Regions from separate parts of the Homo sapiens genome. Here all the other regions are reported to be linked to region 3. Evidence: microRNA targets listed by miRTarBase, many of them from high-throughput screens and not tested one by one. Region 3 holds a microRNA gene; each other region holds the end of a gene's coding sequence.

Region 1 (3,153 bases), not on the chromosome of region 3:
TTAGCTGGGCGTGATGGTGGGCGCCTGTAATCCCAACTACTTGGGAGGCTGAGGCAGGAGAATCACTTGAAGCCAGGAGGTGGAGGTTGCAGTGAGCCAAGATCGTGCCACTGCACTCCAGCCTGGGTGACAGAGCAAGACTCTGCCTCCAAAAAAAAAAAAGTAACTTAACATACGTAATGAAAATTATTTTCCAAATGCGAGTTGAATTTGTAATGTCTTCTTTCAGGATCCACTGAAAGATGGTGAGGCAAAGATCAAAAGCGACTATGCACAACTTCTTGAAGACATGCAGAATGCATTCCGTAGCCTTGAAGATTAGAAGCCTTGAAGATTACAACTGTGATTTCCTTTTCCTCAGCAAGCTCCTATGTGTATATTTTCCTGAATTTCTCATCTCAAACCCTTTGCTTCTTTATTGTGCAGCTTTGAGACTAGTGCCTATGTGTGTTATTTGTTTCCCTGTTTTTTTGGTAGGTCTTATATAAAACAAACATTCCTTTGTTCTAGTGTTGTGAAGGGCCTCCCTCTTCCTTTATCTGAAGTGGTGAATATAGTAAATATACATTCTGGTTACACTACTGTAAACTTGTATGTAGGGTGATGACCCTCTTTGTCCTAGGTGTACCCTTTCCTCATCTCTATTAAATTGTAAACAGGACTACTGCATGTACTCTCTTTGCAGTGAATTTGGAATGGAAGGCCAGGTTTCTATAACTTTTGAACAGGTACTTTGTGAAATGACTCAATTTCTATTGTGGTAAGCTCATTGGCAGCTTAGCATTTTGCAAAGGAATTGCTTTGCAGGAAATATTTAATTTTCAAAAACATAATGATTAATGTTCCAATTATGCATCACTTCCCCCAGTATAAATCAGGAATGTTTGTGAGAAACCATTGGGAACTATACTCTTTTTATTTTTATTTTTTATTTTTTTTATTATTTTTTTTTTGGGGACGGAGTGTCCCTCTTGTTGCCCAGGCTGGAGTGCAATGGCGTGATCTTGGCTCACTGCAGCCTTCGCCTCCCGGGTTCAAGTGATTCTCCTGCCTCAGCCTCCCGAGTAGCTGGGATTACAGGCATGCTCCACCATGCCCAGCTAATTTTGTATTTTTAGTAGAAACGGGGTTTCACCATATTGGTCAGGCTGGTCTCGAACTCCAGACCTCAGGTGATCCGCCCACCTCGGCCTCCCAAACTGCTGGGATTACAGGCGTGAGCCACCGCGCCTGGCCAGGGACTATACTCTTTTTAAAATAGACATTTGTGGGGCTCACACAATATATGAAATAGTACCCTCTAAAAAAGAGAAAAAAAAAATCAGGCGGTCAAACTTAGAGCAACATTGTCTTATTAAAGCATAGTTTATTTCACTAGAAAAAATTTAATATCAAGGACTATTACATACTTCATTACTAGGAAGTTCTTTTTAAAATGACACTTAAAACAATCACTGAAAACTTGATCCACATCACACCCTGTTTATTTTCCTTAAACATCTTGGAAGCCTAAGCTTCTGAGAATCATGTGGCAAGTGTGATGGGCAGTAAAATACCAGAGAAGATGTTTAGTAGCAATTAAAGGCTGTTTGCACCTTTAAGGACCAGCTGGGCTGTAGTGATTCCTGGGGCCAGAGTGGCATTATGTTTTTACAAAATAATGACATATGTCACATGTTTGCATGTTTGTTTGCTTGTTGAATTTTTGAACAGCCAGTTGACCAATCATAGAAAGTATTACTTTCTTTCATATGGTTTTTGGTTCACTGGCTTAAGAGGTTTCTCAGAATATCTATGGCCACAGCAGCATACCAGTTTCCATCCTAATAGGAATGAAATTAATTTTGTATCTACTGATAACAGAATCTGGGTCACATGAAAAAAAATCATTTTATCCGTCTTTTAAGTATATGTTTAAAATAATAATTTATGTGTCTGCATATTGCAGAACAGCTCTGAGAGCAACAGTTTCCCATTAACTCTTTCTGACCAATAGTGCTGGCACCGTTGCTTCCTCTTTGGGAAGAGGAAAGGGTGTGTGAACATGGCTAACAATCTTCAAATACCCAAATTGTGATAGCATAAATAAAGTATTTATTTTATGCCTCAGTATATTATTATTTAATTTTTTAGGTAATGCCTATCTCTTGGTCTATTAAGGAAAGAAGCAATCAGTAGAGAATTCAGGATAGTTTTGTTTAAATTCTTGCAGATTACATGTTTTTACAGTGGCCTGCTATTGAGGAAAGGTATTCTTCTATACAACTTGTTTTAACCTTTGAGAACATTGACAGAAATTATGCAATGGTTTGTTGAGATACGGACTTGATGGTGCTGTTTAATCAGTTTGCTTCCAAAGTGGCCTACTCAAGAGGCCCTAAGACTGGTAGAAATTAAAAGGATTTCAAAAACTTTCTATTCCTTTCTTAAACCTACCAGCAAACTAGGATTGTGATAGCAATGAATGGTATGATGAAGAAAGTTTGACCAAATTTGTTTTTTTGTTGTTGTTGTTGTTTTGAATTTGAAATCATTCTTATTCCCTTTAAGAATGTTTATGTATGAGTGTGAAGATGCTAGCGAACCTATGCTCAGATATTCATCGTAAGTCTCCCTTCACCTGTTACAGAGTTTCAGATCGGTCACTGATAGTATGTATTTCTTTAGTAAGAATGTGTTAAAATTACAATGATCTTTTAAAAAGATGATGCAGTTCTGTATTTATTGTGCTGTGTCTGGTCCTAAGTGGAGCCAATTAAACAAGTTTCATATGTATTTTTCCAGTGTTGAATCTCACACACTGTACTTTGAAAATTTCCTTCCATCCTGAATAACGAATAGAAGAGGCCATATATATTGCCTCCTTATCCTTGAGATTTCACTACCTTTATGTTAAAAGTTGTGTATAATTGTTAAAATCTGTGAAAGAATAAAAAGTGGATTTAAATTAACATTTTTTTCTTTTTCTCTTTTTTATGGCACAATCTGCTAGAAAATATGTACCTTGTATCTTGACTTAATGTTTTGGTATGACCTTTTAAAATTTTTTCCTTCCTTTTTTATAGATTGTTACTTAAGATTATGAAATTGAATTGGAGCCCTCATTATAGCCTGCAAAAAGTCCCATAACTGTATCACACTATGTTTTGGAAA
Region 2 (3,153 bases), not on the chromosome of region 3:
ACTAAATGCTTCTGACAGCGATGCCTCATAAGTGAGAACTTGCCACTGCCCACCCCGGGAAGGCTGTGGCCAGCAGCGCCAACAAGAGGGGCCAGGAGAGGGCACCGTGGGGGCACAGGGCTGGGACAGACCAGATACACCAGAGAGATGGTGCTGTTGGTGGGGGTGAGACCCAGGAGGAGATGCGGGGGAGGGGAGAGGCCTGCACAGAGAAGGGAGGGGAGGGCTGGGCGGGGGCCGGGCAGTGACAGTGGGAAGGAGTCAGCCCCGACAGCTGCCACCAAGGTCTGCCCCGCGCCAGGGCTGTGTGTCCTGCCCAGCCAATCCTCCCTGCTGCCTGCAGGACGCTCGCATCTTTTCCCCTTACCTGCTGCCAGCCGCCTCCTCCAGGCCTCCGCAGCAGCCCCTCACGTGGCCCCGGCCCAACACCTGGCAGGGTCTGTGCTGTGGGACCCTGAGTCCTCTGCAGACGCCCCCCCTTTCCCTCATCACCTCCCTGTGGGAGCTGCTCCCGGGGGCTTTCAAGTGGAGAGGAGGCTGCTGGCTGGGCTAGTGGGGACTCTGGGCAGCTGAGGGGGTGGGCACGGACCCCTTGCCTGCTGTGCGGGACTCCTGCAAGAAGGAGGGTCCTTCTTGTGGGCCTCTGTCCTGGGCCACCCCAGGACTGGGGTGGCAGAAGCCAGAGAGGTGGGTGGTGGTGGGGGTGGGGCCAGGGACAGAGGAGCAGGGTCTCGGGAGGAACGGGGGTCCCAGATACCCCAGGACTAGACAGAGCCAGCTCTGTGCCAAACAGGAGCGGGCACGAGCCCGGCCCCCACCCACAGGAGGAGTGTGACGTGGCGCAGTCGCGGAGCAGCAGGGCCGGCGTCCGCGGGCACCGAGGTGAGATGTGTTCTGGCAGCTCCCCGCCGCCCGAGGCCCGCCCGGAGCGAACACTGCTGGTGGCTTTAATTGCTTTCACATTCGATACGCTGCCCGTGACAGCCTCTTACCCCGCGCCGGCCGCACCCCAGCCCCCAACTCCGTCCAGGGAGACAGCAGAGCCTCCGAGCGGGCGCTTTGCTCAGCAGCACCCGTGTGGGGGCAGAGGCCACCCTGGGACGAGGCTGGGAGGGGACAGGAAACTTTTCTCCCCACGCGCCCCCTCACTCCATCTGCTCCTGCCGGGTGACTGATGGGTTCAGACAGAGCCCCCCGTGCGGATGCCTCGCTGGAAGAAGCTGCATGCGCTGCTGTCCCGTCTGCCCAGTCCTTCCCGGCCCTGGGGCTGCGGCCGCAGGGTCTGACCCCTGCCCCCGCCCAGTCACTCCGTCCTTCCTGGCTGCGTCCATTTGGCAGGGCCGGCTGCCCCTTACAAGCTTGTGAGTCACCCCACCACGGCCATCTCCAGGGGCCCCCACCCGTCCGCCTGCCCGGGATGCCTGGGCAGGGCCTACCCCTCAGACCTGCAACCTCCCCGCCCTTCCACAGGGCCCTGCGCGGGGCAACAGCAGGAGGAGGAGGCGTGATTACAAAACAAAACGCTTTTATTTGGTCCATTGGAGCCTGAGTCGGAAGCCACTGTGGAGAATCCTATGGTAAAGGAACGGGACTGACAATTGATAAAATAGTCTCTGTGTCACAAGAGCTGGCCGTATTTACAGGGTTAAAAATATTCACAGCTCAGAGTACAGGGAGGCCAAAGGGGAGTGGGAATGTTTCTCCAGGTGAAAAGGCCCCGGAAGCCCCTGCCGGGGTAGGAGGGGGAGTGGGGGCGAGGCCGGCCCGCTGCCGGGAGTGAGGGGCCAGGAGGGCACGCAGAAAGCTGGGCTCAGACGTCCACACACTCCTGGGCTTCTGTGGGGAGGTGGGAGCGGCTGAGCCCTGCCCGTGCCCACGATGTGCTGGGGTCCCTCTCTGGCAGGGCCGGGCCGAGGGACAGGGTTGGCTGAGGAGCCTGCTGGTCCCAGTGTGCCCGGCAGCAGTGAGCGGTGCTGAGAACTGGTGCCCACCCACAGCGGGCCTGGCGCCCGCCTGCACCCAGTCATGGCTTCGATCCTGGCGGGCACTCCAGGATTTGCATAGTGTCGCTGGGGGGCTGGCCAAGGGCCCCTTCTTCTGAGACAGGCACCGCCCCGGGACTCGCCGCTCCACACCAGGGCTCCAGGGACCCCGCCTGCCCTGTGGGGGACAGGGACCCGGGCTCTGGGGGAAAACTGACCTTATGCCCCGTGAGGGGTGGTCCCTGATCCCACCCCAGGGTCTTGGCCTCTGACACCCAGATTTGGTTTTGCGGACAGAGCTCCTGGCTGCCTAGCCCGCAGGAGACCCTGAGCCCACAGGGAGGGGCAGCCTGGCCTCGGCCCCCGTCGGGTGTTGGGGCTGGCAGGTGAGCGGGGCTGGTTCACAGCCCGCCTGGTTCGAGGTATTCTGCGTGGCGGCCAGGAGGCCTGGCCAGGCGGACTGTGGGGTTCAGGGAGGGGAAGGAGGGGGGCGGGGGGCCCATGGGAAGCTGAGCCCTGGGCTGGCAGCTCCCTGGGCGGGGTCCTGAGATTCTGGCTCAAGCGTCCTCTGTCGGGGTCTCCCTCATAAAGTGCGTGTGGGGGTGGGGGGTCCGTCTGTGCACAGCCCCTGCCCCAGGCATGGTGGTCACAGCGGTCGGGGCCCATGCAGACCGGCGACCTCTGGCGTGAGTGGGGGGCTGTGGGTCCCCTTGGAGGCTGTCCAGTCACTGAGGAAGGCCTGGGCTGCCTTGCGATGTGCCAGGCGGTGGGTGATAGAGAAGCCGGCGTTGCCCTCTAGCTGGGACAAGATCACCAGGACCTGCCTGGGGGAGGGGACCGGTGAGGACCTGTGGAGGGCAGGGTGGGGATGGGGGCAGGGCTGTGCCCACCTGTACAGGGGCAGGAGCAGGAGTGGGGTGACAAACACCCGTACAGGGGTGGGGGCAGGGGTATGAGCACACCTCTGCAGGGGTGGGGGGGGCATGGGTTGGGTGTGGGTGCAGCGGGGTAGGGGAGGGGGCACCTGTGCAGGGGTGGGGGGGCACGAGTTGGGTGTGGGTGCAGCGGGGTAGGGGAGGGGGCACCTGTGCAGGGGTGGGGGGGCAGGGGCGGGGGCGCACCTGTGCAGGGGTGGCACGCTATCCTGGGTACGCAGGCTGCCGCGTGTGGA
Region 3 (3,153 bases):
TCGACAAGCATCCCAGCGAAGCAGGCTGAGCGCCCGGCTGGCTCCCTCAGGTCCCCTCTTCCGGGCCTTCTCCGTCCTGTTGATTTGGGTGTTTTAATGCAGGAAAGTAGGACACTGGTTGTCACCTGCCTGCTCCTACAAGGAAAATGCATGTTTGTGTGGTTATCCGTGGCCACCCCCACCAGGGCCTGCGGGGGGCCCAGTGCAGTGGAGGTGGGGAGGGGACTCGTGGGCTCCAGGATCCGTGGAGAGTGAGTGTCAGCGGGAGGGCGTCCCCCGACCTTGGTCAATGGAAGCTGCTCTTCCTGGGGGTCCTGCGGGAGGCCCGTGATGGGGGTGGGGGAGGAGGGGTAAACACCGGGCCCTGATTGGCCGCCTGTCCTTGGGTCTTTGCTGGTCCTAAGAGGGAACGGGGAGCACAGCTGGGGTCACAGCCTCAGCTGGGACTCCTGCCCTCCAGCACCTCAGCATCCTCCCTGCGGGTGCTCTCCTGGGGGCTGCTCAGGGCAGGTGGCAAGTAGGGGGCTGTGGGACCAGAGACAGGGGGTGGACATGCCCAGGGCCTGCCCTTTTGGCCTGCCGTGGAGACCCACCCAGGAGCACCTGGGGGCTGACCCTCCCCTGCAGAGAGCAGGGTGAATCCCAGCCCTGCCCTCACCTAACAGCCGGGTTCGAGGGGAGCGTAATTTATAATGAACCCCACTCCTCCCCCAACACCCGCCACAGGCAGGAGCCAGCCTCTCTCCTGACACCAAAGTCATGCTCCTGACCCTGCAGGCCACAGGGTGAGGAGGACCCAGAGGGGCAGCAGGGTGGGGGCGTTTCATAAGCCAGGGAGAGCTGCCCCTGTACATCCTCAGGCCTCACAGTGGAGTGAGGGGCGGGGGTCGCCTGCGTCCTCCACAGGAGCTCCTGTCATTCCACCTCCGGGGGTGCACTTGCCGACTTACCCCAGCCCTGGACTCACAGGCTGTGCTGCTGTCTGCCCAGGGCCTGGCGATTGCTGCGCCCATGATGGGTCCCACAGGCAGGCCCTGCCCTCCCATCGCTGGCTTCTGAGCAGGGGCTTTGGGGCTGCTGGACCTCAGAGGCAGAGCCGGGGCTTCTGGTGTCCCTATGTCTTGGATGCCTGGTGTCCTGAGGCCAGCGCCCCCCAGCTTGCACTGGGACCGTCCATGGAAGCAACTCCTCTTTCATCTCAGGCACTGGGGGTCCCAGGGCCAGGGAAGGGGCTGCGCAGCACCTCAGGAGCCCAGAAGAGCTGCCCGCCAGGGAGGAGGAGCTGGGGGGAGCAGAGGCCTGGACCAGCTGGGATGTTCCCATCGGCGTGTCCCTCCCGCCCAGGCCACGTGGGCAGGGGAGGAAGAAGGGAGGAGGAGCGGAGGGGCCCTTGTCTTCCCAGAGCCTCTCCCTTCCTCCCCTCCCCCTCCCTCTGCTCATCTCATCATGAGACAGCTGGCAAGGGCCTTCGGCTGCCCTGGAGTGCCCCTGCCCTGGCCAAGCTCTTGCCGCCCCCTTCTTCTGGAGGTGCCAGATGGGGCGGGCCCAAGGCAGTGGAGGTCTGGGCCCTGGCTCCAGCTCTGTCTCCTCCTGAGGGCCCTGGAGGAGCCAGGAGGAGGGCCTAGCAGGGCCGGGCAGATGGTGGGCCGGGAGGAGGGGCTGCCTGGGTAGACGGACCGACTGGCAAGACAGATGGTGGACCAGGCAGGGGTCCGGAGCCCGCCCCATCTGCTCCAGTCCCTGGTGGGACTTTTCTTGTCCACCTCGGGCTGAACTGGGATGGACTGTGTGGGTGGCTGTGGCCCAGGCCGGATTCTGTCACACTGGGTCCTCTGTCCCTGGGGCATGGCCAGCCGGGTGCTCATCTGGGGTCTTGAAGCCTCCTCCTGGCAGCTGGCACGTGGCTGGAGGTCATCATGTTTCGGGGGCTCCTGAGGGTCTGGGGGCCATGACTGAGCAGAGCCTGGGGCGCGTCCCGGGAATGAAGCCACCGCTGCAGATGAGGGGCTTTGTAGGTGGGTGGGTGACTGTAGCCCCTGGAGGGGCTGCCTGGGGCCCAACGCTGATAGGGCCCGGGACAGGAAGATGCTTAGTCACGTGTTTGCGCTGCAGGTGCACCCCCAGCCCAGGCGACATCAACGGCCAGCCCCACACACGTGAGGAGGGATTGTGGGCCCAGGGGCGCTCAGGATGGGGCCGGGCTGCTTCTCAGAAGAGGGGACGCTGAGCCCAAGCAGGCTGCACTCCTGCTTGGACGGAAGGTGGATGGGTGGGGTGGGAAGGGGTGGGAAACGCCCAGCCCTGATGGGCTTGCGGGAGCCTGCGGGAGGGCCTTGCGTCTAGCTAAGGCGTGGGGAGCACCTCCCGTGGCCCCGTCCTTAGACCCCCGAGGGGTGGGGCGCTGCGGGTGGATCCTGGGGGTCTGAGGGTGCCAGGAGGATTTCTCATGTTGAGTTCTAGTGTTGATGATGCTAATCCAAAAAATACCTGAACCAAAAACCAATTCCAAAGAAAATCCCGTGCAGCAATGGCTTTCGATCGGCTGCGGCTTCTGTGGAACAGCTTCGGTGTCTTTGGCGTTTGGTGTTTTCGGACAGGCTCGGAAGTCACGCTCCCCAGGCTCAGGAACCCCTCCTTTAAAGGAGGTCGGTCCGTTTCCTCAAGTCACAGGAGCAGACGCAGGGTGGGGGCGTGGGGCGTCATGGGGAACAGCAGGCGGGGTGCCAGGGTCAATGTTAAGGTCCAGGTCACTCTCCAAGGAGCCCGCTGAGGGCTCAGGGCTCAGGGCTCAGGTGGCCCTCCTGCCCGCCCCACCTCTTGCTCCCTCCAGCAATGTCTTCCTGCTGCCAGCTCTGGGAGCCGGAACGCTGCCTTCAAGGCTGGGCCCATCACGAGGACAGCTGCGCACTGTCCCCTGCTCACTTCCTGTCAGTCTCTTCCTGATTTCCTCCTTACACTCAGTTCTCTTGTCCCCTTGGCCTCTTAGTGGCTGGGTGACCTTGGGTAAGTCACTCACCGTGTCTGAGCTTCGGTTCCTTCAGCTGGGAAAAGGCAACAGAGAAGTTCCCACCTCATAGGGTCCTGCAGCAATTCACTGGGTCAAAGCCCTCAGAACCCTCTTCAGCTCAGAGTGAGCGCCTCCGGAGTGCTCGC

The links. Region 3 holds the annotated microRNA hsa-miR-4739 (AAGGGAGGAGGAGCGGAGGGGCCCU, at 1,367-1,391, shown strand). A microRNA usually pairs through its seed, bases 2 to 8, with sites in the 3' UTR of a target mRNA and lowers its output. Matches are read on the target gene's strand: a 7mer-m8 pairs with bases 2 to 8, a 7mer-A1 pairs with bases 2 to 7 and ends in A, and an 8mer does both.
Region 1: miRTarBase lists ATP6V1A as a target of hsa-miR-4739. Seed matches in the 3' UTR shown: 7mer-m8 at 523-529.
Region 2: miRTarBase lists CAPN15 as a target of hsa-miR-4739. Seed matches in the 3' UTR shown: 7mer-m8 at 2,454-2,460, 7mer-m8 at 2,320-2,326 and 7mer-m8 at 1,672-1,678.

Annotation. Positions count from the first base shown.
Region 1 is chr3:113,809,106-113,812,258 of GRCh38, forward strand. ATP6V1A (ATPase H+ transporting V1 subunit A) reads left to right here. Exons shown (of 15, transcript NM_001690.4): 15 at 230-2,951. The coding sequence ends at 322. Among named protein-coding and RNA genes, the nearest start is that of GRAMD1C, 28 kb to the right of the region's middle.
Region 2 is chr16:552,992-556,144 of GRCh38, reverse strand. CAPN15 (calpain 15) reads right to left here. Exons shown (of 14, transcript NM_005632.3): 13 at 3,104-3,153; 14 at 1,509-2,806. The coding sequence ends at 2,629. Among named protein-coding and RNA genes, the nearest start is that of PRR35, 5.8 kb to the left of the region's middle.
Region 3 is chr17:79,705,454-79,708,606 of GRCh38, reverse strand. MIR4739 (microRNA 4739) reads left to right here and starts at 1,358; the gene lies at 1,358-1,431. It overlaps LINC02078 (long intergenic non-protein coding RNA 2078), which reads right to left and starts at 1,341. Exons shown (of 2, transcript NR_109783.1): 1 at 951-1,341; 2 at 1-135. RefSeq lists enhancers at 256-877, 878-1,499.